7 linked regions of the Homo sapiens genome follow. The protein of the gene in region 5 interacts with the protein of the main gene of each other region in a biochemical or structural test. Each region holds a gene or a part of one and is shown on either strand. Other genes may lie near its edges. The genes, in order: SDC3, PRR16, CRB2, TMEM151B, GIPC2, GNG4 and ATRNL1.

Evidence for each region.
Region 1: the proteins of GIPC2 (region 5) and SDC3 interact in a test that uses a peptide from one of them, tested with the Homo sapiens proteins (one large-scale study listed by IntAct).
Region 2: the proteins of GIPC2 (region 5) and PRR16 interact in a test that uses a peptide from one of them, tested with the Homo sapiens proteins (one large-scale study listed by IntAct).
Region 3: the proteins of GIPC2 (region 5) and CRB2 interact in a test that uses a peptide from one of them, tested with the Homo sapiens proteins (one large-scale study listed by IntAct).
Region 4: the proteins of GIPC2 (region 5) and TMEM151B interact in a test that uses a peptide from one of them, tested with the Homo sapiens proteins (one large-scale study listed by IntAct).
Region 6: the proteins of GIPC2 (region 5) and GNG4 interact in a test that uses a peptide from one of them, tested with the Homo sapiens proteins (one large-scale study listed by IntAct).
Region 7: the proteins of GIPC2 (region 5) and ATRNL1 interact in a test that uses a peptide from one of them, tested with the Homo sapiens proteins (one large-scale study listed by IntAct).

The regions. Positions count from the first base shown.
Region 1 is NC_000001.11:30,877,759-30,881,258, forward strand, and holds part of SDC3 (syndecan-3), read right to left. Parts: intron 2,333-3,500; exon of another isoform or gene 1,183-2,332; coding exon of another isoform or gene 1,171-1,182; intron 983-1,170; coding exon 865-982; intron 1-864. UniProt on the Homo sapiens protein: Cell surface proteoglycan that may bear heparan sulfate. May have a role in the organization of cell shape by affecting the actin cytoskeleton, possibly by transferring signals from the cell surface in a sugar-dependent mechanism.
Region 2 is NC_000005.10:120,470,800-120,474,299, reverse strand, and holds part of PRR16 (protein Largen), read right to left. Parts: intron 1-3,500. UniProt on the Homo sapiens protein: Regulator of cell size that promotes cell size increase independently of mTOR and Hippo signaling pathways. Acts by stimulating the translation of specific mRNAs, including those encoding proteins affecting mitochondrial functions.
Region 3 is NC_000009.12:123,359,197-123,362,696, reverse strand, and holds part of CRB2 (protein crumbs homolog 2 precursor), read right to left. Parts: intron 1-3,500. UniProt on the Homo sapiens protein: Apical polarity protein that plays a central role during the epithelial-to-mesenchymal transition (EMT) at gastrulation, when newly specified mesodermal cells move inside the embryo.
Region 4 is NC_000006.12:44,276,697-44,279,944, forward strand, and holds the end of TMEM151B (transmembrane protein 151B), read left to right. Parts: 3' UTR 1-2,748; downstream 2,749-3,248.
Region 5 is NC_000001.11:78,132,966-78,135,954, reverse strand, and holds part of GIPC2 (PDZ domain-containing protein GIPC2), read right to left. Parts: intron 907-2,989; exon of another isoform or gene 774-906; intron 364-773; coding exon 212-363; 3' UTR 1-211.
Region 6 is NC_000001.11:235,576,785-235,580,284, forward strand, and holds part of GNG4 (guanine nucleotide-binding protein G(I)/G(S)/G(O) subunit gamma-4), read right to left. Parts: intron 1-3,500. UniProt on the Homo sapiens protein: Guanine nucleotide-binding proteins (G proteins) are involved as a modulator or transducer in various transmembrane signaling systems.
Region 7 is NC_000010.11:115,099,865-115,103,364, reverse strand, and holds part of ATRNL1 (attractin-like protein 1 isoform 1 precursor), read right to left. Parts: intron 1-3,500. UniProt on the Homo sapiens protein: May play a role in melanocortin signaling pathways that regulate energy homeostasis.

The sequences.
Region 1 (3,500 bases), about 47 Mb from region 5:
TCCTGGGCTCGGAACCAGGCAGGAGGGAGGGGAGCCAGGGAACTTTGCGAATAGAGATGTGACCCAATATAAACGGGTTTTACAAAGATTAATTTGAAAGAGGCTCAAAGGACTTGGCTAAGGAGGGGAGACCAGAGGCGAGGGCTGTGGGGAGCCAGCTCTGTGGCGTGCAGACCCCGTACCATCTCCTCAGATGCCAGCCCGTGCCCTCACTGGGCCCAGTCTCAGCTGCCTTCTTTTTGCTACCATTTTGAGAGCTCCTCCTCTGTGCCAGACCCCAGCTTCCTATCCCAAACCCTCCTAGAGGCACTGAGAAGAAGTCGTATTTCTCACCATCCACAGGTGAAAATACAGGGATTCAGGGAGGGGGAGCACCGAGGGGCACACAGTTGCTACATGGCAGAGTGGGGTTCGCGGTGCCCTTCTCTCCCGAGATTCTGCTAGACCCAGCTGACCTGGCTCCCCTTCCCCAGGGCGGGGCCATCCCAGGCACCACTTGAAGCACCTGCCCTGTGTCATCACTGCCCTAACCCCACCATTGGCCACAGCTTATTGCACCTGACGGGACCACCGGAACCAAGCAAGGTCTGCAGAGAAAGCCACATAGCACACACAAAGATGCAGACGTGGGACCCTGGAGACCTGGACATTCTGGGCCCTGAGGTCCTCCCAGGTCTTGTTCTATCCCCAGAAGGATGTTCTGCCCTTCTTGTTCTGGGGATCCAGAGCAAGAAGAACTTGCCTGACCCAGGCAGTGAATGCCCCCTGCCTCACTGAAGCAAGCCCCCCGTGGGCTTCTCAGAGTTGAGGCTGGATACAGACTGGTCACTGCCCCCAGGCAGAGGTAGGGAGGGGGGTACTTACAGCCCGAGCCCGACCCCGAGTAGAGGTCATCCAGTTCATCATCGGGAAAGGAGTCATCATCCCCAGAGCCCTCCAGGTCCACGGGTCTCTCGAAGTTCTCACTGCGCCAGCGCTGGGCCTAGGGAAGGTAGAGGTGGACACAGGGCTCGGCACCCGAGACTGGCAGCCTGGGTGAGCCCAGAAGGGCGACAGGTGCCCTTGTGGGCTGAGTGACATCCACGTGGGTGACAGAGATCTTGTGTGTACCCTGAAGGAAAGTGCGTGTGTGAATAATTCACAGGGCAGGGGTGGGGTGTGGCAAGTCACCTGGGGTCCCATCCCAGAAGGCTTTCAGTGTCTGGCTGATGACTTTCTCTTAGAAACTGGTCATTTTTCATCTTGACTGCACATCTGAATATTGTGAAAACTAAATTCAGTGGTTCAGTAGGTCTGGGGTGGTCTCTGAGCAGCCGCAATGTTGGGCTGGCTGTGGGGAGCCCTGGGGCATGTGTGAGCAGGCGAGGGCTGGAATGGCCCTGCATTTGGGGCCCAGCCTCTCACCCCCTGCCACTGATGGGCCCCCTTCTGGAGTTGATACAGAGCCAGAGTGAGGATCTCAATCCTGTCTTCATATCCCCAGCCTCAACCACCTGCTCCAGAGCCCTGCCCAGCCCAGCCAGGGCAGGGAGCCAGGAGGTGCCCCCTCACAAAATGCACACACACACATAGTCTCAAAGTAATGAATTAATCAGTATTTACTTTCTACCAGTGAGTCATGGAGTGGAACAATTAGTGTAATTTCTCCCGTGACGAATTGCTGGGTCTTCCTCCTTTTTTAAACATTCTAGGAGCTCAGAGCAGTAGGGCCCAACTTTTCCCCAGCTCCCCTCTGCCCAGAAAGAAAAATACCCACGGTGGAGGAGCTAGAACTCCCCATGGCACTCCCCTCCACAACCTGAACCAGCCAACCTGGAGTCCCTGCTCCCTCCAGCTCTCTGGCAAGCAGCCTGAAGTCACACAGAAGAATGGGGACTGAGCAGGGACCCAGGCTCCGGCTCCTGCCCCTGCCCAGGGCTGTCTTCACTGTCTTTCTATCCTTCCCAGTAGGCTGGGCAGTGGCTGGGAGGCCTTTAGCTGGGAGGAGGGATACTAAGAGGTCTGTGGTCCCTGGAAGCCCCCAACTGAAGTAAATGTGGGTGCCAAAACAAGGGAGTCCCCAAGATTCCTCAGTGACCAGTGCCACTTAGCCCCTAACTTCCTGCTCCAAGAAAAGCCTGTACAAACCCAAAGACCTACCCCCATGCCACATAGACCCTTGAAATGACACACCCCAGAGACACAGCACATGCACAGACACACACTGAAACATGCTCACCTAAAAGCAGCCACAGAGGGCTCAGCGTGTCAGCATGCCTGGGGGTAAAAACAGCCACTCACATGGGGCAGGAGGAGCTGGGCCTGCTGTGCAGCTCTGAGCTCAGAGACAAGCATCGAGCCTCCTGGAAACCCATCAGCCTCCACTCAGGTAGCGCTCACCTACATACTATTCATCCCCAGCTCAGTAGCCATCGACATGACAACCGTTACCATGACGACCATCTTCTCCATGCTAACGACCAGGAGCTGCAGCTCCCCACAGAGATGGGGTGGTACAGGAGAGGGAGAGATCACGGGGGAACTGAGAGGATGACAGGGAAGGGGGAGGCAGAGACAGAGACGGTGACAGAGAGTCGAGGACTGAGGGAGGCCAGGGGGCAGAGGGGCAGAGACGGGGAGGGTGGGCTGGGGGTACGAGAGAAGGAGAGAAGGCAAGGGTGGGAGGCAGAGGGGAGAACTCACACATCCTAATTTAGCCTCATGCTGATGAGGCAAGGCTGGGGAAGGGGCCACCTCAGTAATTTTCCAAACCTGCTTCCAAGAGTACATTCTTTCCGAACAGCAAGCATCCCCAATGGCAGGGTGTGCAGGGGGAGGAACGGCCCAGTCACCCCTGAGCCCACCTGGGATGCTCAGCGGGAACTTAATGCGAGGACACCTGGGACCTGCAGGCATGGGCGCTGGGACTCATGAGGCCCTCTCAGGAACACTACAGAGGGGGTGCTGGTAGCTGCAACTCCCAGAGGGGACAGAGAAATAGGGGTTGGGGAACGGAGCCTGGGAGGCAGCAGGGAAAGCCTTAGAAGTCACAGAATGCCTGAGGAGGAGGGTGACAAGCAGGCTTTGACCCCCAAACGACCTCCGCATTTGCATAATCCATCATAATAAGCATAATTATCCATGCCATTCCCTTAAAGGAGAACTGAATCCAAAAGCCCCAGGACGCTGCCAGCTTCTCCTTGACCCTCACTGTGCCCCCTCCAGGTAAACACAACCCCCCCATGCCTGATAGGAGGCTTCCATACCCCCAAGACACGCGCGCACGCATGCACACACACACACACACACACACACACGACAGCCCAACATCCTCATGCATATATATTCTTCTGCATGTACTATGCACCCCAATGGATACACACACACACTATTAAGTGCAATGTTTGCCCACACCAATCTGTATACTCACCACAGCCTATAGGCAATACAGCCCAGCCCACACCAGCACACACTCACCCATCTACTTCACCCCTAGCTGCCTGTACACATGCCCTAGGGTA
Region 2 (3,500 bases), on a different chromosome or scaffold from region 5:
ATCCCCCCAACAAAGAATTATCCACTCAATATGTCAATAGTGCAGAGTTTGAGAAACCCTGAGCCAGTGATTAAAGGTAAAAAGATGAAAGTATAGCAGATTTAGTCACCTCCCTGCTCAGAAGTCCCATTTTACTCTAAGGAAGAATCAAAATCCTTAGACATGTCCCCCATATCTATCTGACCTTATCACTGCTACTCTTGCCCTGCTCGTCCACTCCTGCCACCCTGGGCCCTTGTTCTGCTGCAAATGCATGGGAAACTTGTCCACTATAAGGCCCTTGGGCTGCTATTCCCTACTTGGGAAAATGCTCCCCTAGATTTCCTTACTGCTTGCTCCTTCACCTTCAAGCATTTTCCCCAATGCCACCATGCCACTTTCTCAGTGAGGCTTATTCTGAACAATCCTATTTAAAATTGCACTTCCTCCTCATCACTATTCATCCCATTATAATCTTCTATTACTTCATAAGATAAATCACCTTCTAATATTTGATGTAAACTAGTGTTTATTTTACTGAGCTATCTTCTCCCTACCCTCCCCATCCACTATGTAAACTCCATGAAGGAATTTTGTCTGTTTTGTTCCCCACTATATCCCTAGAAACTAGAACAGTGCCTGGTGTACAGTAGGTGTTAAACACTACTTGTTGAATAAATGAATAAAGGGGCTCAGACAAATTCAAATAATAACACTAATGACAGACACACATACAATGCTTGCTTTATGCATAGGAACCATTCTAAACGTTCTACAAAGAACTCATTTAATCTTCATAACCAACCTATACTGCACATAACACTGTCACTATCGCCACACTATGGAGAAAATGAAAACAGAGAGAAATTAAATAATGTGCTCAATATTGCACAGCAGAGCAATTTGAAAAAAAGCAGACTGGCTTCAGAGTTTGTGCTCTCACCCTTCTATACTATGCCACCTTACTGAGCAACACAGACTAAAAATTCTCCTATTCTTTAAAACAAAAGATAACCCCAAATATTTATCAAAAACATTGAGCTATGCAATAAAGAGGCAATCAAATTTATACTTCATTCTATATATAATTGGATAAACATAAATATACCTCTGATATTTGGGCTTTAAAATTACAAAGTTATGTCAATTCATAATAGCCTACAGTGTTATCACTGTCATCAAAAGTAAACAGAAAATAGTTACTTCAAGGGCAGATCACTAAGCTTATTCATATATGCATCTTTTACTTTCTTCAGCACAGTGACTTACACATATCAAGAATTCAATATGTCTTTCATAATTCATGTTAATGTGACATAAGAAAAAAATAAAACAAATAAAAATGCTGATCTGCAATCAGTTTTAAGAAGAGAATATGCTTAATTTACAATGAGTTCTGAAAACTTTTTGTCCATCTATTTACTGATATACTATGGCAAACATCATAAGAAACGACAAAATGAAAGAGTTAACTTTCAGACACACAAGCATTCTACAGCTTTTGCAAAGTCGTGAATTATAAATATACCACCTATTTTCACACTGACATCACATCCTAAGAGAAAGAAACTGTTGATATGCCACTCATTTTTTTCCCCTACATAAAAAACATCAAACCACAGCCATCAGTATTTCTTTTTTTTCTTTTTGTAGGGCCAGGACTTTTAATTCTGAAAATTATGGAGCCAAACCTCAAACAATTAGCTAAAATTTCTAAAAAATAAAATGGCAATCAACCACTTGTTTTGTCTCTTTACCTGAGTCATTCCCACCCACCCAAGATTCCCTGAACATGTGCAGGAACCACGTTTGTGTGAGCTTTTGTTCCAGAAGAAATAATCCCAACTTTTTTTCCTTTTTTCAAAGGGGTTTGTGATATGGGGGGAGGGAGACTATTAAGAACCACTGATGCTAGAAGGCAATTGATTTGACTGATATTGTTTAACCCAGTATTTTTCTCTCATATAAACACACAGTTTGAAATCTTGAGATAAGGTGATATTATGAAAGGGGAAAATGCACACCAATGTATCTGTTAACATTTGTGTGGTACTACAAAAAGAACCTGTCAGAAATCATCAAATTTTCTTTTTCCAGACAAGGATAACATATGTTATCTGTAGTTGAAAATCTATTTATAGTGTCCCAAACATCATGATAACTGTGTCATTGAGCATAAGTATGTAATTTGCCTAACTTCAATTATTCTACAAGTAAACATTTATCTCAAACACCAATCTGAAGCAGCATTTGCAAAGTAGAAAGAGAGAAAACAAAGATGATGAATATAAATTCAGTCCTAACAGTGTTAATATTTCTTGCCTGAAAGTGAGGTCTGGGAGTTTAAATTCTTTGGAATCCTCATGTCTTTCCATTCTAAATAAATAAATAGCTTATCCCATATAAGCAAGACAACATTTGTCCTGAGTTGACAGACTACCTTGTGAGTCTACTTTGATTTGGATATTAGATATGTCTTTATTTTCTCATTTCAGTTAATGCTACTTTCTGGTTCTTGTTTAAAGATGAATTTCTGCTGACTTTGGGTTCCCAGTTCCTGTGGGAAATTTAATTCAGAGTAATTATCCTAATGAACTAACTTTTAATACAATAAAAACATTTCTATTCATAACATACTGGAAAAGAAAACAAACAATTTTAGAATAAGGCCATTTCTTATAACCCTTATATGTGGGAGAGAGGAGGTGGTTTATAATCGATAGCACTAAAGTTAATACAAGAAATCGAATTATAATATATACATATGACATCATTAGCCAGTTCAATAATGTTGTTCCTAGTAAAGAATTCAACAAGATTCTCTAATTCATCAGTCATAGCAGAAAGCAAGAGAACTGTCAAACCTCAAACATCTCAGAAAACTTAAGGATAGTGCCTCTCTTCTAAGGTAATTTGATAGCAACAAAAGAGAATAATATATTCCAAATTATTTGTATTCTTTGAAACAATTATATACAATGCTAAGTATCAACGAGCTTCCATATTAGTTGTTCCTTTATTTTCTCAGCCAGAATATTAAAAATCTATGTAATATTCTTATCAACATTTTTGTTGAATAAGTTAAAGGTAATTAATCACAGCACATCTTTATTTGCAAATTTTAAATTGCAAGGTCTAATTTATTCACTATTAATTTTGTCTCAATACTGTTTTCTGCAACCTACAAAAATAATGACTGTTACCATGAAGATAATAAACTACACAGCAAGCCTTAATGAAATAATGAAATGGTTTATTAGCTTCACTCCCAATTTAAGAAACAGTGTCCATACATACGCTGCTGCTGCAAGCAAAAATTTGTGAAAACTCCCTGGAAGACAGTTTGGCAATATGAATTGAGAATTTTAAAGCTTTTAGATCCTTGACTTCTAAGAAAATGTTAAAAAAAAAATAGGAAACGTGAAAGAGCTTGGCGGTTAATGCTGTTCTTTGACACCAAGCTACCTGGCAATGAAGCTTCACTTCTCCACTTACAAGACAAGTGAGTTGGGCAAATGACT
Region 3 (3,500 bases), on a different chromosome or scaffold from region 5:
ATCTGCACCCAGAACTGGGAACGGTTTTAGGAGAGCCTATATAGCAGAGAAACAGCACCAAGGATGTCTGGCTTCTGGGCAGGATTAGTGAGCAGAGGTTCCCTGAGCCCCGTGAGCTTCCCTCCACTGTCTTGTCCCTGCAGTCCCCCTTTGAGGCAGTATCCGTCATGCCCATTGCACCAGACAGCAAAAGGAGGCCCAGGAAAGAAAGTGAAGGCTTGCTGAGCCTGCCCAGCCCTGTCCACTTCACACAGCAAGTTAGTGTTCGCTGGGACAGGCTTCAAGGTCTATCTGGATTATTTCAGCTCCACCTGGGGAGGGGTCTCCCTCCTGCAGGCCCCATCCATCCAAGGAGGCCCCAGAGGGTGAGGCTCCTCCCACTGCCCCCTCCACCTCTTCTGCCAGGGGTCTGGTAACTCCATCCCTGGGTGAAACTGGAGATGGGCCCGACCTCAACCTCTGGAGGATGGGTGGACAACTTCAAAAGCAGGGATCGTGTGCTCCGCTGGTCTCATTCCTACCCCTTCTCCACATCACTACCCACCCCCTGCCAGCCACTGGCCTAGGAACTTCTAGAGGGTCCCTGGCCCTAATTTCATCCCCCATCAGCAAACACCTGAGTGGCCGGCCTGGCCAAGGTCGCATGGTACAGAGCAGGTATTGAGATGGCTCACGGACACCTGCCCCTGGCCACCATGATGCTTCCAGCACCGGGGCTCTAACAGAGGGTCACCAACCGGCTTGGAAGCCACGCCCAGAGATCCTCATCCCCCTTCCTCTCCTCCTGCCTTCCTGAGAGCCTTGTCACCACAATGCCCAGGTGAGAACTTGAGCTTTGAAGTGAAACAGACCTGGGTTCAATTTCAGCTCAGAAAGTTCCTAGCTATGAGACCCTGGGTAAGTCATTTCTCCTACAGAGCCTCCGTTTCCCAGTCTGAAAATTAGATCATAAAAGAATCCCCTCATCAAATGCTGAACTATTCAGCTCCCCAGCACCGCAGTCAAGGGCTGCTTTTGGTAACAACTCGGTAAGGGATGGGGGAGGAGAGCCTCCAGAAGACACAGCCTCCATTCCTCCCCCCACCCCCATCCGGAGCTCCCAAAGGTGCCCCTCCCCCACCCAGGTTGTCATCTAGACACTCACCAGACCCCAGAACAGCTCAGACCCTGCACCCTTCCCTCCCCCACTCTGGTGAAGCCCCCCAGATAAGGCTGGCAGCCTCTCAGGCGTCATCCGCATTCCAGGCAGGGCTGTCCTGTGGCCTGACCCGCATCCTTCCAGCTCCCCCAGGAAAGGGCACAGGTTTGGGGCATCGGGCAGTCCTGGTTTGTATCTGGGGTGCAAAAAGTGCCCATCTCATGGAGGTGTTGAAAGGATTCACCAAGGTGATGCAGGGCACAGCCCTGGGACTGGGTGTGGCCAGCACTGCTCAGGAGGGTGCAGCACTCATAACCCATGGTAAAGGGCCCCGGCTGCCAGCGCCTGTGCCAACAGGTCCCTCACTTAATTCCCACAGAGCACTGTCCCTCACCTGTGCAGTGCAAGGAACCCCCCCCCCTCCCCGCCCATCCAATCTGAAGCTTTGCCCCCTATCTCAGAGCAGCTGGGACCACGCTGGGGAGGCAGCACCGGGGAAAGGATCCTGGGGGGCGGGGGAGGTGCCTTGTCACAAGGGATCTTCCCAGGACCATGGGAGCAGATGGGCTCTAAATGACAGAGCCCGGGAGACAGAGTCCAACCCCATGGGAGGAAGGAATTTCTCCAGTCAGAGCCAGGCAGGAAGGGAAGGAGCTGCCCGTCCTGGGAGGCATGCAATAGTGCCACAGTCCTGCCTGGGAGGGACAGCCATCTTTCATGTGTCATCTCAGTTGATCTTGGCATTTACCTCCGAGGTGGATAGGATTATGATGCCTGTTTTACAGCTCAGGAAAGGGAGACTCGAAGCAGCCTCACAGTCCACAGCCCAAGGGAGGCTGGAATCCAAACCCAGGGCCTCACTCCAAGCTTCCCGGAATCACGGGCCCACATTAAGAATACAGATTCCTGGAACCCACTCCAGACCCCAAATTTAGAACCACTGGGCCCTGAGCCTGAGAATCTGCATCGCAACCTGCTCCTGGGGGATTCCTTTCACTTTTAGGTGTGGGAACCGCTGACCTCAGGTTGTCTCTGTCTTCCAGGAGTGAGCCTAGGAGGCCACGATAGCCCAGGCCAGACAGGAGAGGCAAGGAGGGGCGGGGTGTGGAGGGCAGCAGGGCGGAGGAGGGGCTGTCCCCCCTTCCCGGGCCAGGCTGGAGGGGCGGGGCCTGTTGCCAGGGCAACGAGGGGCCTGTGCTTATCTTTACAAATCCCTCCTGACCTCAGGCTGCCTGGGCCGACCTGGCAGGGAGGGATTAACCGACGCCCGCCCCTCCCCTTCGACCTGCTGCCCTGTCCTGGGGAGGGGCAGGAGGACCCAGCTGTTTACTGAGTGTGTACTATGTGCTTGGGCCTGTGCATCTATTATTACATTGTTATACTTGATTCAGACCAGAAAAGGTGGGTGCCATTAAGAAAATTTCTGTTTTTGTAACTCAGAGAGGTTGATAATTTTGCCCAGGTTGAGACGAAGAATCAGATCAGCTCCTGATTTCCCAGAGGTCCACATCTCCCAATGCATGTGAAATTTTCACTTTACAAACCCTAAATTGCCACTCACATATTGTTGCTTTAGTACATTACAGCTGCCTCACCCAGGAAAAAAAAAAAATCTCTAAAGGTTTTCACAGGAATACAGCTTCCAATATCAGCCTGGGCAGAGCAGGCAATCTTCCCCGTCTATCCAGAACCCAGCTGTCAGTAATCCCACTGTGTCTCAGGCCTCACTCATTAGTAACTCCTACTTTTCATGCACTTAGAATGGGCCTGTTTATAACAGCCAACAACTGATGAGAAGTGTTTTACTGAAGCCAGGTGCAGTGGCTCACACCTGTAATCCCAGCACTTTGGGAAGCTGAGGTGGGAGGATCACTTCAGGCCAGGAGCTCAAGACCAGCCTGTGCAAACATAGTGAGACGCTGGCTCTATGAAAACAAAACGAAATAAGCCAAGCATGGGGTGGGTCCCTGTAGTCCCAGCTGCTTGGGAGGCTGAGGTGGGAGGATGGCTTGAGCCCAGGGTGTCGAGGCTACAGTGGGCTATGATTTTGCCACTGCACTGCAGCCAGGGCAACAGGGTGAGACCCTTTCTTAAAAAAAAAAAAAAAAAAAAAAAAACAAAACAAAAACGAAAAACCACAAACAAAAAAAGAAGCATTTACTGGGGAAGCTTCCTGTCCCAACAAATCAAGAGACAGAATATTTCTAAGAAGCGACCTAAGATCTCATAAGGTGTGGGAACTTCTAGCATAGGGGAAGAAATTGTTCATCTAATATCCCTGGGCCCCAAGGCTCTACCCTACAAGGGTAGGGCTGAATAACCATGGAGGCTTGCAGACACTCACTCAGTCATCAGGAAAGGG
Region 4 (3,248 bases), on a different chromosome or scaffold from region 5:
CCTGTACATAAAGAGACCGATGGGTGGGAGGGGGTCGGCTGCTCCCCGAGATCCCCCTGGCAGAGTCATTCTTCCAGCCCCAACCCTGAGTTCCTAAAGGGACACCTCCCTCCTGTCCAGCCCTTCAACAGATCTTCTGTTAGATGACAACCGTGCCGTGGGCCCCGCGTTGGGCCTTGTCTGAAGGGAGAGGCCCTGGCATGCGGATGGGAGATTTAGAGGCTGTGGAGAAGGGAACTTGGGGCTTTCCTTCCTTCGTGGCCTCACTCCCCTGGGGCCTCTCTCTATGGAGGGGGCAATGGTTTGGTGACCAGCAGGCTGGATTCCAACTAGCTAATGCATTCAGCAGGTCTGAGGCTGGGGCCAGGTGTCAGCCCTAGGCCTCCATCCAACACCGTGGAAATGTTGCTGCCCTCTTCTTGGCGCTGACCCCAAGATTGGGGTTTCCTTTCTGCCGCTCCCTCCACTGTTGTTTATCTAACTGGGCCCCCACTCCAGGTCCAGAGGGACTGTGCTCACTGCACAGACATCACTCACCTTCCGCTCCCCAGTCCTGCAGAGCTGTTGCCAGGGTGCAGTGGGGAGGGGAGTGAAATGTGGAGGACTGTGTACCTCAGTCCTCTCTCTAAACTCCTCAGCCTCCCAACAGGGGCCTCCTCACCTGGGTTCTGAGTGTATACCCCTTTTAGAGAGTGAGATGCCACCCGGGCAGCACTCGTTAAAGCTGGCCAGCACGAGTGACTAAGGGGAGAGAGCATGACATAGACCTGGGTGGCAACGGGGACCTCTGGAAGCAGGTGGGAGTAAGAGAGGAGAGGGCAGTGGAGGGTAGAGGAAAAGGACCTCCAGAGGTGGGGTGTCTGTGGGGGCGGCCTTTGCCTCCCTAAACCTGTGCGGAGGAGTGGAGTGTGCTTGTCGCTCAAACACATCTCTGGGGGACTGAGGACGTTGTCACAAGCCCCAACTGGAGAAATAATTCCAATGGCAGGGTCAGAGGCAAGCATTCTCTAAATCTTGCCCAACCCTTCCATCCTTCCCTATCCTATGAGCTGAAGCCCTGCTGTGTGTCGCAGGGTCTTCAAAGGGGCATCCTGCCACCACCCCAGGGCGCTGGCCCCACGTCCTGTTCCCCTAAAGCTCTGACACCGCCTTCTCTCCGTGTGCTCCCCCCACCACCTCCACCCTGATGTGCTTCAGTGTGCATGTCTGTGAACAGCCCTCCTGCCCTGCCAACTCCCCTGGCTAAAGTCTCCCCAGCAGATTTAGCACCCAGGGATTGAGCTCACATTTCAGGCTAGAGAGGATAACCCTTGGGCCACCCACATCTCTCACCCCTGATGCTTCTTACTTCGCCTGAGCCATCAGAACTCCTCCTTACCCTCCTTCAGCCCCTCTCATCTTCCTTCAGCCCAGCCAGGCCTGCACCACCAACTGTGTGGCCTCCACCTATGCAACATCGCCTCTGGCTCCCCTTCCCTTCTTCCTAGCGGGGAGTGCGAGGGGCCCAAATTGTGGGGATACCATGGCCCATGGCTTCTAAAGGGTTTAGCTTTACTTTCAGGTAGAGATGGCTGAGTGAGGAGGGAGAAGAGGCTAGAGAGAGGGAGGCTTGGGCAGGGGAAACAGCTGCCCACCAGGTTTTCCTGGACAGCAGTGCCCACCTGCCTACTAGCACTGAACCTGCCTGGACCCTGAGTCTGTGCTCCTTGGGGGCCTGGCGTTTGGAGCACCCTTCTTTCCTCTGAATGGACATCTGTGAGGTACAGGTGGTGAGCTGCAGCCTCAGGCTCCATTTCTTAGCCAGCTGGCACCTGGATGTCATGCTTTGTGTGGGGACAGCCTGGCCACCTCAGGGCTCCAAGGAAGGAGGAACGTGGCTCCTCCTCCCTCAGGCCTGTTCCTGAGACAGAGCCTGGTCTCACAAGAGGGGAAGGGGGACCTCTATTATTATTTTTGCCTGTATTGACCATTTCTGCCTAGGTCGTCTCAGACAGCCTCATCTCCCACACATGCACAGACTTAGAGAGAAACCAATTCTTTGGTCTATTTTCTTGGTAGCTTTACTGATTGCCAGGGAAAATGAAAACCAGAAAATTAATTAATCTCTAAAATTAAACTTTACACTGAATGTTCTTGTTTCTCTAATTAGAACTTCTGCTAGCAGCTGTGGCTATACACACACACACACACACACACACCCTCACACCTACACGTTTGCACTCCGGAACTGTCAGAGGGTGTCAGGCACAGACAGACTCTAGGTTGCCTAGACAGGCACACACATGCAGTCACTCCCAAGCCCCCTTTGGTGCTCTGCTCAGCGCCTGCTTAGCGGAAGGAGTCCCTGGAGAGCAGGCACTCCTGGACTGGGGTTGTAGCCCATGACCTGCCCTTTGGGGACACAGTTCTGGAGGCTCTGGGCCAATGAATCAGCCCAAGGAGGATGGGCAATGGCGCTCAGCCTGAATCAGTCAGCTAGGTCTCTTGTGGCCCTGGGGGCTGATGTGATTCCTGTAGGTGTGGCCCCAGGGTGGACAGCTACAGAGTGATGGGGGACTCATGTAGGGCACCTGGAAGGCTCCATGTGTCCTGGGGACAAGGGCTTGTGGGGTGGGCTGGGCCTGGCTGGGGAGAAGACAGGTCTCTGTCAATTGGGTGCATCACACTGTGGCCTTTTTGTCGTGGATTTAAGCGCAAAGATTGTACAAATCAAACTGGTGGATAATAAAGTCGTGGATGACTCACTGACTTCCTGTCCCAGTGTGGCACTTCTTTCCCTCCCTCCCAGGGAAGCTCTCTGGGGTGGGTGGCAGGGATTGTGTCATCCTTCCCTGGAAGTTGTCATCTACAGTTGCCTCCCCAGAGGAGTCCACTGGGTCTGAGCCCCTGGTGTCAGCTCATTGTCCCCTTCCCAGGTTGGGAGTTGGGGAACTAGGGGATGGCGTGGCCTGTAGAACTGGATCACTTAAAGCAGAGTCAAGCAACAGGGAAATGCATCTACAGGGATGAGGGTGGCAGAGAGAGCCAGGCATAGCCCTGCTGTAGCCAGAGGGTGTGTGTGTGTGTGTGTGTGTGTGTGTGTGTGTGTGTGTGTGTGTGTTTGAAGATCAAGGATCTGTTTGGTAGAGAAGAAAATGGTGGGGAGTCAGGGAGGCAGGCAGCCCCAACGGGAGAATCTGGCAGGCACAGTCCCTCAGACACCTCTCTGACTTCCCTGTTCCTGAAAGAAGTTGGTCATTTGTGGGTGT
Region 5 (2,989 bases):
TTAGGTCATTTCTCTTAAGCATACTACATCAGCAATGTTAAAAAGTGCCCAGAAATCAAAATTACCAAAATTATATTTCAAAGAATATATTCCATACACATGAAATTAAACCAGAGTTAGTAAAGGTGTCCAAAAACAGATCTTATAGGACTTTTTAAAAAAGAGAAAAAAAAGAACGATGGGTTGTTTCTTCAGAGATGGAGTGTACACATCATAATCCTCTTCGTTTGGCATCACCAATGACTCCCCAAACATCAAAGACAAATTCGTCTGGGAACGCAAAGTCTCCAAGAGTTTCGTCAAGTGCCACAGCAAATTCATCTGGATTTACTTTGTCCTTTCCAGCTTCAAACATTGTGGTGGCTATCAAAAATAATATTAAAAAATTAACAATAAATGAAATAGCATCAAAGGACTGAGAAAAATGGCAACAGGAAAATTACTTGCTAAAAGTAACATGCATAAATATATTTCAAATTAAATGCAAAATTAAATGCAAATTAAAACAGTAAGATACCCTCTCTCACACACACACATCAAGGTGGCAAAGATACTTTTCAACAATGTGTCCACTGAACCCAGGTTTGCAGCTGCCACCCTTGCCCCCTACCCAACCTTGGAGCCCATCAGTTGGGAACCTCTGGCATTCCCATGGGTAGAACAAGATCCCCTGAAAGAAACCCTGTGGCTGTGACTAACCCTAGCAGGAAACTTAAAGAACACCCCTTCCCCAACCTCCTAATAGTCACTACTCTCCCTCCCTCCTCCACCAGTCCCCCACTGCCAACTGAGATGGAGTCCAGTCCTCCCTGCCCAAAGACAAAAAGACAAAGGATGACAGCTTGCACTGGAGCAGTCAAGCTGGGGAGAAGCAGAGGAAGACATCTGTCTACCTGTGGAATCAAGGTACCTTTTCTGAGCCCCTCTCCAGTTTGGGATAGAACATGAAAGTGGCGGCCTTGTTCAGTTTTTCTACTAAGTTGCCTGGGTTCCATATTCTATGTCTTGGAACCAGCATCTTCAGGAGTACTTAGGACTTGCCCCAGCTGTCTGGGAGCCCAAGAGGCTCAGTGGATTTCCACTCAGCACCCTAGAAGCACCAGCAACCAGAAAGAGATGGTGTATATGTGATGTGGGACTTGGGTGAAAAACCTCCATGTGAAAGGGAAACGCCAAAGCCCCAGGGAAAAGCTCCAGCATCTCCTTTCCTTCCAGGTTAAGGATGAACTAATCCAAGTTTGTATGACTTCTCTGAACGAGCCACAAGGTCTAGAGAGATAAAAGCTATGCCTCTTCCCATCAGTTCAGTCCTAACACAAGGCAGGCTAGGAAGAAAAGGGAGAGATGTGGCCTACAGAAGAGCACCAGGATCAGAGCAGAAGTAGGGTGGGGGTGCAGTGAACTAGTAGAGGGATCAAACCTCTAGTAAGGTAAGGAGGGCTTCTATATGGCCAGGCAGCCTGGCATGGGGTGGGAGAGTACAGATGTGGTGAGGATGGCATGGGAATGGGGAGGGAGGGCAGCAGCCACGGTGATAAGAGATTAGTTACACATATGGAGATGGATCACATACATACACACACACATACATACACACACACACACACACATACATACACACATACACAGACACATACATACAGAACAACAGGAATCAAGTTTGTCACTGCCAGAAAAGGATAAATAGGGAAAGGGAGAAAATAAGAATGAACCCTATGGAATTAGAATTGTAGATATCACTGGAAATATATATATATCTCCAATTGAGGTGTTATAAAAATACAGACATAAATGCATACATGCATGTGTATACACATTCCTCAGTCCTGGAAGCATGACATCCCAACTACAATGAGTACACAAAGCACCGAAATCTTGGTTCTTAAATACCATTCTCCATTAGAAAGACTAAGACTTCCTCAGAAAAATGGCAGATTCCAGGGCTAGAGCAGGCAAAGTGCAATATGAACCAAGACTATCTTGTACCAGAAAGTAAGAAAGTGTCACAAAATGATGGGAACATGTGAAAAGGATATAGATGTCAGAGTGCAAGAGTTCACACTGACCAAATCAGGGATAATTTAAATATCCAAATAAGTAATGATGGTAATATATTATAACTCCAGTGAATAGAACAGGAAGCCATGAATCCATAATACATACATACACACACACACACACACACACACACACACACACACACAATTTTTTTTTCCTTGTGTAACCAATGTTTATCTTTAAAACTAAACCCTAGTGGCAGTCTAATCTACAGAACCCTTGGTTCTCACTACACTACACTACATTAATGCTGTACCCTCATAAATCTGACCACTCAAAATGCTATCTTCGCTGCTTTCTGCCTTTGCCCAGGATAACCTCCTCCTAGCCACCAGCACCACCATCAAAATCCTTCTCTCCTTCAAGGCTCTCTCCTCCATGAAATCCTTTGTCCACAGCTGGAAGAGATATCCCCATTCTCTAAACCCTTCTGCCAGTGTTTTTCATGCTTAAATGCACAAACAAATCACCTAGGATCTTGGCAAAATGGAGATTTTGGTTCAGTAGTTCTGCAGCCCTGAGATTCTGCATTTTCAACTCCCAGGTGATGCTGGTCCTCAGGAAACACTTTCAATAAAAAGGTCTTAGACTGCAAATTCAACATTGCTCTGCACTGACATTTATTTTTCTGTGTATTTTTTTCTCTCCTACTAAAAGAATAAACTCCCAACAGATCTTGAGTAGCTTACTCAGTCTTTTATGCCCGTAGTAACTAATTCAGTGTCTCATGCATAATAAATGCTAGTGAATGGGTGGTGCAAGAGGAGGGTGTGTAATTACACTTACATACTTTTTGCACAGGCACAGTTAGCATGCACTGGGGAAAGTGAAGTCCAGAACTCTGGTCTCATAGCCAGGATGTAAAAGAAGAGTAGCCAGAATGTTAAGGTGAAGTACTGCTGAAGTAGAACTCCAGTTCAGAATTTTGCTT
Region 6 (3,500 bases), about 160 Mb from region 5:
TGAACCACACTGTGTGTGGGTTTAAGATCTTGCTGTGGGCTTTGTGGTGTAATGCCTCAATCTATATCCCCTACTGAAGTCTATATTTGCACTTGTGCTTTTGTGCAAATGGGGACAAGCAGAACTTCAAGACAATAATGAATATTTCAGCTACGTTTTTCCTCCATGAATCGTGCAAAGCTCTCTGAATTGGCACTATTACTCTTTCTTACTTCTGCAACCCCAGAACTGCTTAATGCAGTTATATTTTCCTTTCTCTTCCCAGTGACAGATGTCCCCTTATTTTCCTGGGCGGCAAATGCCTTCTTTTCCTTCCTTCCTCCTTAGAAACTCTCCTGAGCACAATAAGCTACAGAGCCTGGTGGTGGGCCCTATGGTTGGCTACATACCATGCCATCCCGGGGGCTCCCTTTTGGTTTCCTGCTGGTACCTGCCCTCGCCTGGGATGTCCTCTTTGGGTTCCCATCTGCCGTGCTCTCACCTGGAAGCCAGCTCTGTGGGCCTGGGAGTTGCCACGATTCCTACCATGGACCCTCCAGCTGGTTCCCATGCAGCCTGCCCTATCGTCGTGTGCACATTCACCTGCTAGGCATTCTCACTATGCAGTCAGTATGGGCCTGGCCTTTTCCTCTTCCTTGGAAAATCCATCTCAGTGTTTTCTTTTTTTTTCTTTTTAGGTAGAGTCTTGCTCTGTCACCCAGGCTGGAGTGCAATGGTGCAATCTCAGCTCACTGCAACCTCCGCCTCCTGGGTTCGAGTGATTCTCCTGCCTCAGCCTCCCAAGTAGCTGCGGCTACAGGCACGTGCCACCACGCCCGGCTAAGTTTTCTATTTTTAGTACAGATGGGGTTTCACTATGTTGGTCAGGCTGGTCTCAAACTCCTGAACTCGTGATCCACCCGCCCTGGCCTCCCAAAGTGCTGGGATTACAGGCTTGAGCCACTGCGCCCGGCCCATCTCAGTGTTGTCATCTGGCCCTGGTGTTTCTGACATGGTGTGTGCGAGTTCAGTGGATTCTAAAAACTGCTCCTCTCCTCCTTCCCCAGGGCTGCCCTCTGTCATTTCCTATCCAGCCTCCCTCTTTCCTTCCTCCTCTCTGGCAGTAACCTCGTACCCATCCCAGAAAGGCCATTGCCTTTCCCTGGTGACTTCCTCTCTCTTCCCTCCTCAAGGTCCTTGACGAGGTCATCGGGAGTGTCCTTGACAGCTCCCCTTTCTTTCCACATTCGTATAGTCTGGCTGATACCAAGATGCACCTTTTCTTTTTTTTTCTTTCAAGTCTTGCATCACATAGATTTTTCTGCAAAGCCACACTGTGCCCTGAAACCAGGGATGCCTAGGGCTGAAAACCATGTGTGAGCTTCATACTCATTAGGGTGACTATTATTAAAAAAACAGACATCACTAGATCATCAGGGAAATACAAATGAAAGCTACAGCAAGATATCACATCAAACCTGTTAGGATGGCAATTATCAAAAATACACAAGATGACAAGTGTTGCTGAGTTTGGAGAAAAGGGAACCGTGGTATGCCATTGGTGGGAATTAAATTTAGTACAGCCATTTTGGAAAACTGTGGATGTTTTTCAAAAATTAAAAATAGAACTACCATAGGATCCAGCAATCCCACTACTAGGTATATAACCCGAGGAGACGAAATCAGTATGTCAAAGAAAGATCTGTGTTTCTGTGTTCATTGCAGCATTAGTCAAAATAGCCAAGTTATGGAATCAACCTAAGTGTCTATCAGCGAATGAATGGATAAAGCAAATGTGGTATATTTACACAATAGAATACTACTGAGCCCTAAAAAAGAAGGAAATCTTATTACTTGAGAAAATATGGGTAACCCTGAAGGATATTATATTAAATGAAATAAGCCATGCACTGGACAAATACTGCATGATCTCACTTATATGTGGAGTGTAAAAAAGTCAAATTTATAGAAATAGAGAGTAAAATGGTGGCTACCTGAGGCTGTGGGGTGGTGAGATTAGAGAGATGTTGGTCAAAGGACACAAAGTTTCAGGGCTGGCTGCGGTGGCTTAGGCCTGTAATCCCAGCACTTTGGGAGGCCAAGGCAGGCGGATCACCTGAGACCAGGAGTTTGAGACCAGCCTGGCCAACATGGCGAACCCCGTCTCTACTAATAATACAAAAATTAGCTGGACGCGGTGGTGCACACTTGTAATCCCAGCTACTTGGGAGGCTGAGGCAGAAGAATTGCTTGAACCCGCGAGGCAGGGGTTGCAGTGAGCCGAGATCATGCCACTGCACTCCAGCCTGGGTGACAGAGCAAGACTCCATCTCAAAAAAAAAAAAAAAAAATTCAGTTAGAAGAAATAAATTCGAGAGGTTTATTGCACATCATGGTGACTACAATTAATAACAATGTATTGTATACTTGAAAATTGCTAAGAGAATAGGTTTTAAGTGTTCTCACCACAGAAAACTAAGTATGTGAGAGAATACATACATTAAATGGCTTGACTTAGCCATTCCACAATGTATGCCTATGTCAAAACTTCATGTTGTACACCATAAATATACACCATCCCCCTCAGTACTGTCGTCATGATAGTGAGTGACTTTAATTTTTACTTGTCAAAGTAAATACATTAATAAAAAAAAAAAAGTAAATACATTAATAAAAAAAAACCCAGAAAACAAGTGCTGGTCAGGATGTGGAGAAACGGGAATTCCTGTGCACTGCTGGTGATGACGTGACGTGATGAAGCCCCTGTGTAAGCAGCGTGACAGTTCCTCCAAAGGCTGAACATAAGGCCGGGCATGGTGGCTCAGGCCTGTAATCCCAGCACTTAGAGAGGCCGAGACAGGCAGATTACCTGAGGTCAGGAGTTCGAGACCAGCCTGGCCAACATATAGTAAAACCCTGTCTCTACTAAAAACAAAAATTAGCTGGGTGTAGTGGCTCATGCCTGTGATCCCAGCTACTTGGGAAGCTGAGGCAGGAAAACCACTTGAACTCAGGAGGCAGAGGTTGCAGTGAGCTGAGATCATGCCACTGCACTCCAGCCCAGGCAACAGAGTGAGACTCCATCTCTCAAAAAAAAAAAGGTAAAAAGGTTGAACATAGAGTTACCCTATGATCCAGCAATTCCACTTGTGGGTACCCAAAGGAACCAAAGTAAAGACTCCAACAGATACCTGCACACCCATGTTCCTAACAGCATTATTTACAATAGTCCAAAGGTGGAGATAACCCAGGTGTCCATCAATGGATGAATGGATAACAAAATGTGGTCTATCCATGCAATGGAATACAACTCAGCCCTGAAAAGGAATGATGTTCTGATACAGGCTACAACATAGATGGATCTTAAGGACGATAAGTTAAGTGAAATAAGACAGGAACAAAAAGATAAATACTGTATGATCCCACTTATATGAGATACCTAGTGTAGTCAGATTCACAGAGGAAAAAGGTAGAACGGTGGTCACCAGGCATGGGCAGGGCGAATGGGGAGTTGGCACTGA
Region 7 (3,500 bases), on a different chromosome or scaffold from region 5:
TATTTTGGTATAAAATCAAAAAATATGACCAGGCGCAGTGGCTCACATCTGTAATCCCAGCACTTTGGGAGGCTGAGGCAGGCGGATTGCCTGAGGTCAGAAGTTCGAGACCAGCCTAGCCAACATGGCGAAACCCCATCTCTACAAAAAATACAAAAAATCAGCCAGGCGTGATGATGGGCGCCCGTAATCCCAGCTACTCAGGAGGCTGAGGCACGAGAATCGCGTGAACCCAGGAAGCAGGGGTTGCATTGAGCCGAGATCATGCCATTGCACTCCAGCCTGAGTGACAGAGCATGACTCCATCTCAAAAAAAAAAAAAAACACTAAAAATATATACACAGAATCTGTATCTGATAACTACAAAAAACTGTTGTAAAAAATCAATGAAAACCCAAATAGATGAAAAAAACATACTGCAATGAAGAACGAGATAATTCAATATTATTTACATATCAATTCTCCTCAAAATGATTTACTAAGTCAACACAATCTCAATAAAAATCCCAGCAAGACTTTTTTAATTGACAAACAGTTCTAAAATGTATATGAAAAACAAAATGAACCAAGTAAATTTTCAAAAATAAAAATAAAGTTGGGGGAATCTCATTATCTAACTTCAAGATTTACTGTAAAAATATACTAATCTTAGCATTTTGGGAGGCCGAGGTGGGTGGATCACCTGAGGTCAGGAGTTAGAGACCACCAGCCTGGCCAACATGGCAAAACCTCATCTCTACCAAAAATACAAAAATTAGCCAGGTGAGGTGGCACATGCTTGTAATCCCAGCTGCTCAAGAGGCTGAGGCAGGAGAACCGCTTGAACCTGACGAGCAGAGATTTCAGTGAGCTGATACCATGCCACTGCACTCCAGCCTGGGCAACAGAGTGAGACTCCATCTCAAATATATGTATGTGTATATATATATACACATATACATACATTAATAAAGTACATACATACATTAATAAAGTGAGGAATTTGCAAAAGGATAGAGATATGGATCAATGGAACAGAAAAGAGTCAAAAAATAAATATACATAAAGACGTCCAATTAACTTTCAATAAAGGTACAAAGACATTAATGAAAAAAGGATAGTCTTTTCAACAAATGGTCATTGGATAACGATAAAGGCTCAGTTTATCAGGAGGACATAATCCAAAATTTTATGCACCTAATAACATAGTTTCAAAATACATGAAGGATAAACAGATAAGACTGCAGGGACAAACAGGTAAATACAAAATTATAACTGAAGATACCCTTCTCTCAATAAGTGGTAAAAACAGACAGAAAATCAGAATGGTTGTAGAAGACTTGAACAAGACTATCAACCAAGTTGACCTAACTGAAATGTATACAACACTCCACCCATCAATAGAAGAATACACATTATTTTCACACGCCCAAAAAAATACTTAACCAAGATAGACAATATTCTGGCCAATAAATTTTAAAGGATTCTAGTCATATAGCCTTCTGTATATTAAATAAGTTGAATGTATATTAATAAAAGTTGAATTTGGAGTTAAAGAAAACTTCAGGCCTAGAGGGTGTCGATGGTGAATTCCACCAAACACTAATGAAGAAATAATGCCAATTCCCTAAAAACTCTTTCAGCAAATGATCAGGAGAGTCCCATGGTGCTCATTATATGAGGCCAGCATTATCTTGTCACCAAAACTAGTCATATATTATAAGAAAAGTGCAGACTAATATCTCTCATGAACACAGATACAAAAATTCTAAATAAAACTTTAACAAACCAAATCCAACCTAAAATAAAAAGGAAAGCATATTGTGTCAGAGGAAGTTTATCTTAGGAATGTAAGGTTGGTTTAACATTCAAAAATTATGTACATAATTCACCATGTTAACAAACTTGAAAAAATCATATGATTATCTCAATGGGCACAGAAAATGCATTTAATACAATCCAGTTTCCATCACTGGTAAAAACTCTTGGCAAACTAGGAATAGAAGGGAACTTTCTCAGTGTGATAAAAGGCATCTAAAAAAAAAACTTACAGATAACATCATACTTCATGGTTAAAGATCAAATATCTCCCCCTAAATCTTAAGTAAGATTGACCACTCTCATCACCTCTATTCATTACTGTAATAGAGGTTCTGGCCAGTGAAATAAGGCAAGAAAAAAAAAGGCATCTAGATTGTAAAGAAAGAAGTAAATATATCTTTGTCTGTAAACAATATAATCATCTAAGTAGAAAGCCATAAGGAATCTGCAAAAATCTACCACAAGTAATAAGTAAGTTTGGCAAGATTGCAAGATAAAAAATCAAACATACACAAATCAGTTGTGTTTCAGTATAATAGCAACAATCAAAAGTGAAAGTTTAAAAAATGCCATTTACAATAGCATCCAAAAATATTAACTACTTAGGGAAAAATCTGACAAAAGAGGTGCAAGATCTATTGACTAGAAATTTAAAAACACTGCTGACAGATTAAACAACTAAATAAATAAACAGATATACCATGTAGGAAACTCAAAACTGACAAGGTATTCATTTTCCCCAAAATTGATCTATAGACTCAACATAATTACAAACAAAATCCTAGTAGGCTTTTTATAGAAACTGACAAGCTGATTCTAAAATTCATATGGAAATACAAAGGACTCAGAGTAGCCAAAATAATTGGAAAAGAACAAAACTGAAAAACACTCCCAGAATTCAAGACTTACAAAGAAACAATAATCAAGACATTGTTGTACTGACATACAAATAGACAAAGAGATCAAGAAACAAAGCAGAGTCCAGAAATAGAAACACAAATATATGAATGGTTTCAACAAAGGTGCAAAGCTACTTTAACAGAGAAAGAATACTCTTCTCAACAAATAGTGCTAAAACAAATACCTATATGCCAAAAAACTGAATTTAGATCCATACCTCTCCCCATATATAGAAATTAACTTAAAATGGACCATAAATATAAATGTAAAATCTAAAATTACAAAACTTCTAGAGAAAAAAAATGAAGAAAATCTTCATCAACTTGGTTTAGGCAGTTTTCTTTTTTTTTTTATTTTTTATTTTTTAAAGACATGGTCTTGCTGTGTTGCCCAGGATGGAGTACAGTGACACAATCACAGCTCAGCTCACTGCAGCCTCCAATTCCTGTGTTAAAGTGATCCTCCCATCTCAGCCTTCCAAGTAGATGGGCTAAATGCGCACACCGCCACGACCAGCTAATTTTTCAAATGTTTTTGTATAGGCAGTGTCTTGCCTTGTTTCCCAGGCTGCACTCAAATTCCTAGACTCAAGTGATCCTCCTGTCTCAGGCTCCCAAAGCGCTGGGATTACACACATGAGCCACAGTACCCAGCCTAGGCAAACTTTTCTTAGGCACAACATGAAAAGTATAAAAGAAAAAAATGATAAACTGGAATTAATCAATTTAAAACTTAGATTCTTTGAAAAATACTGTCAAGAGATTTCATTCTCTTTGCATTGTTTTCATAGACAAGCCGCA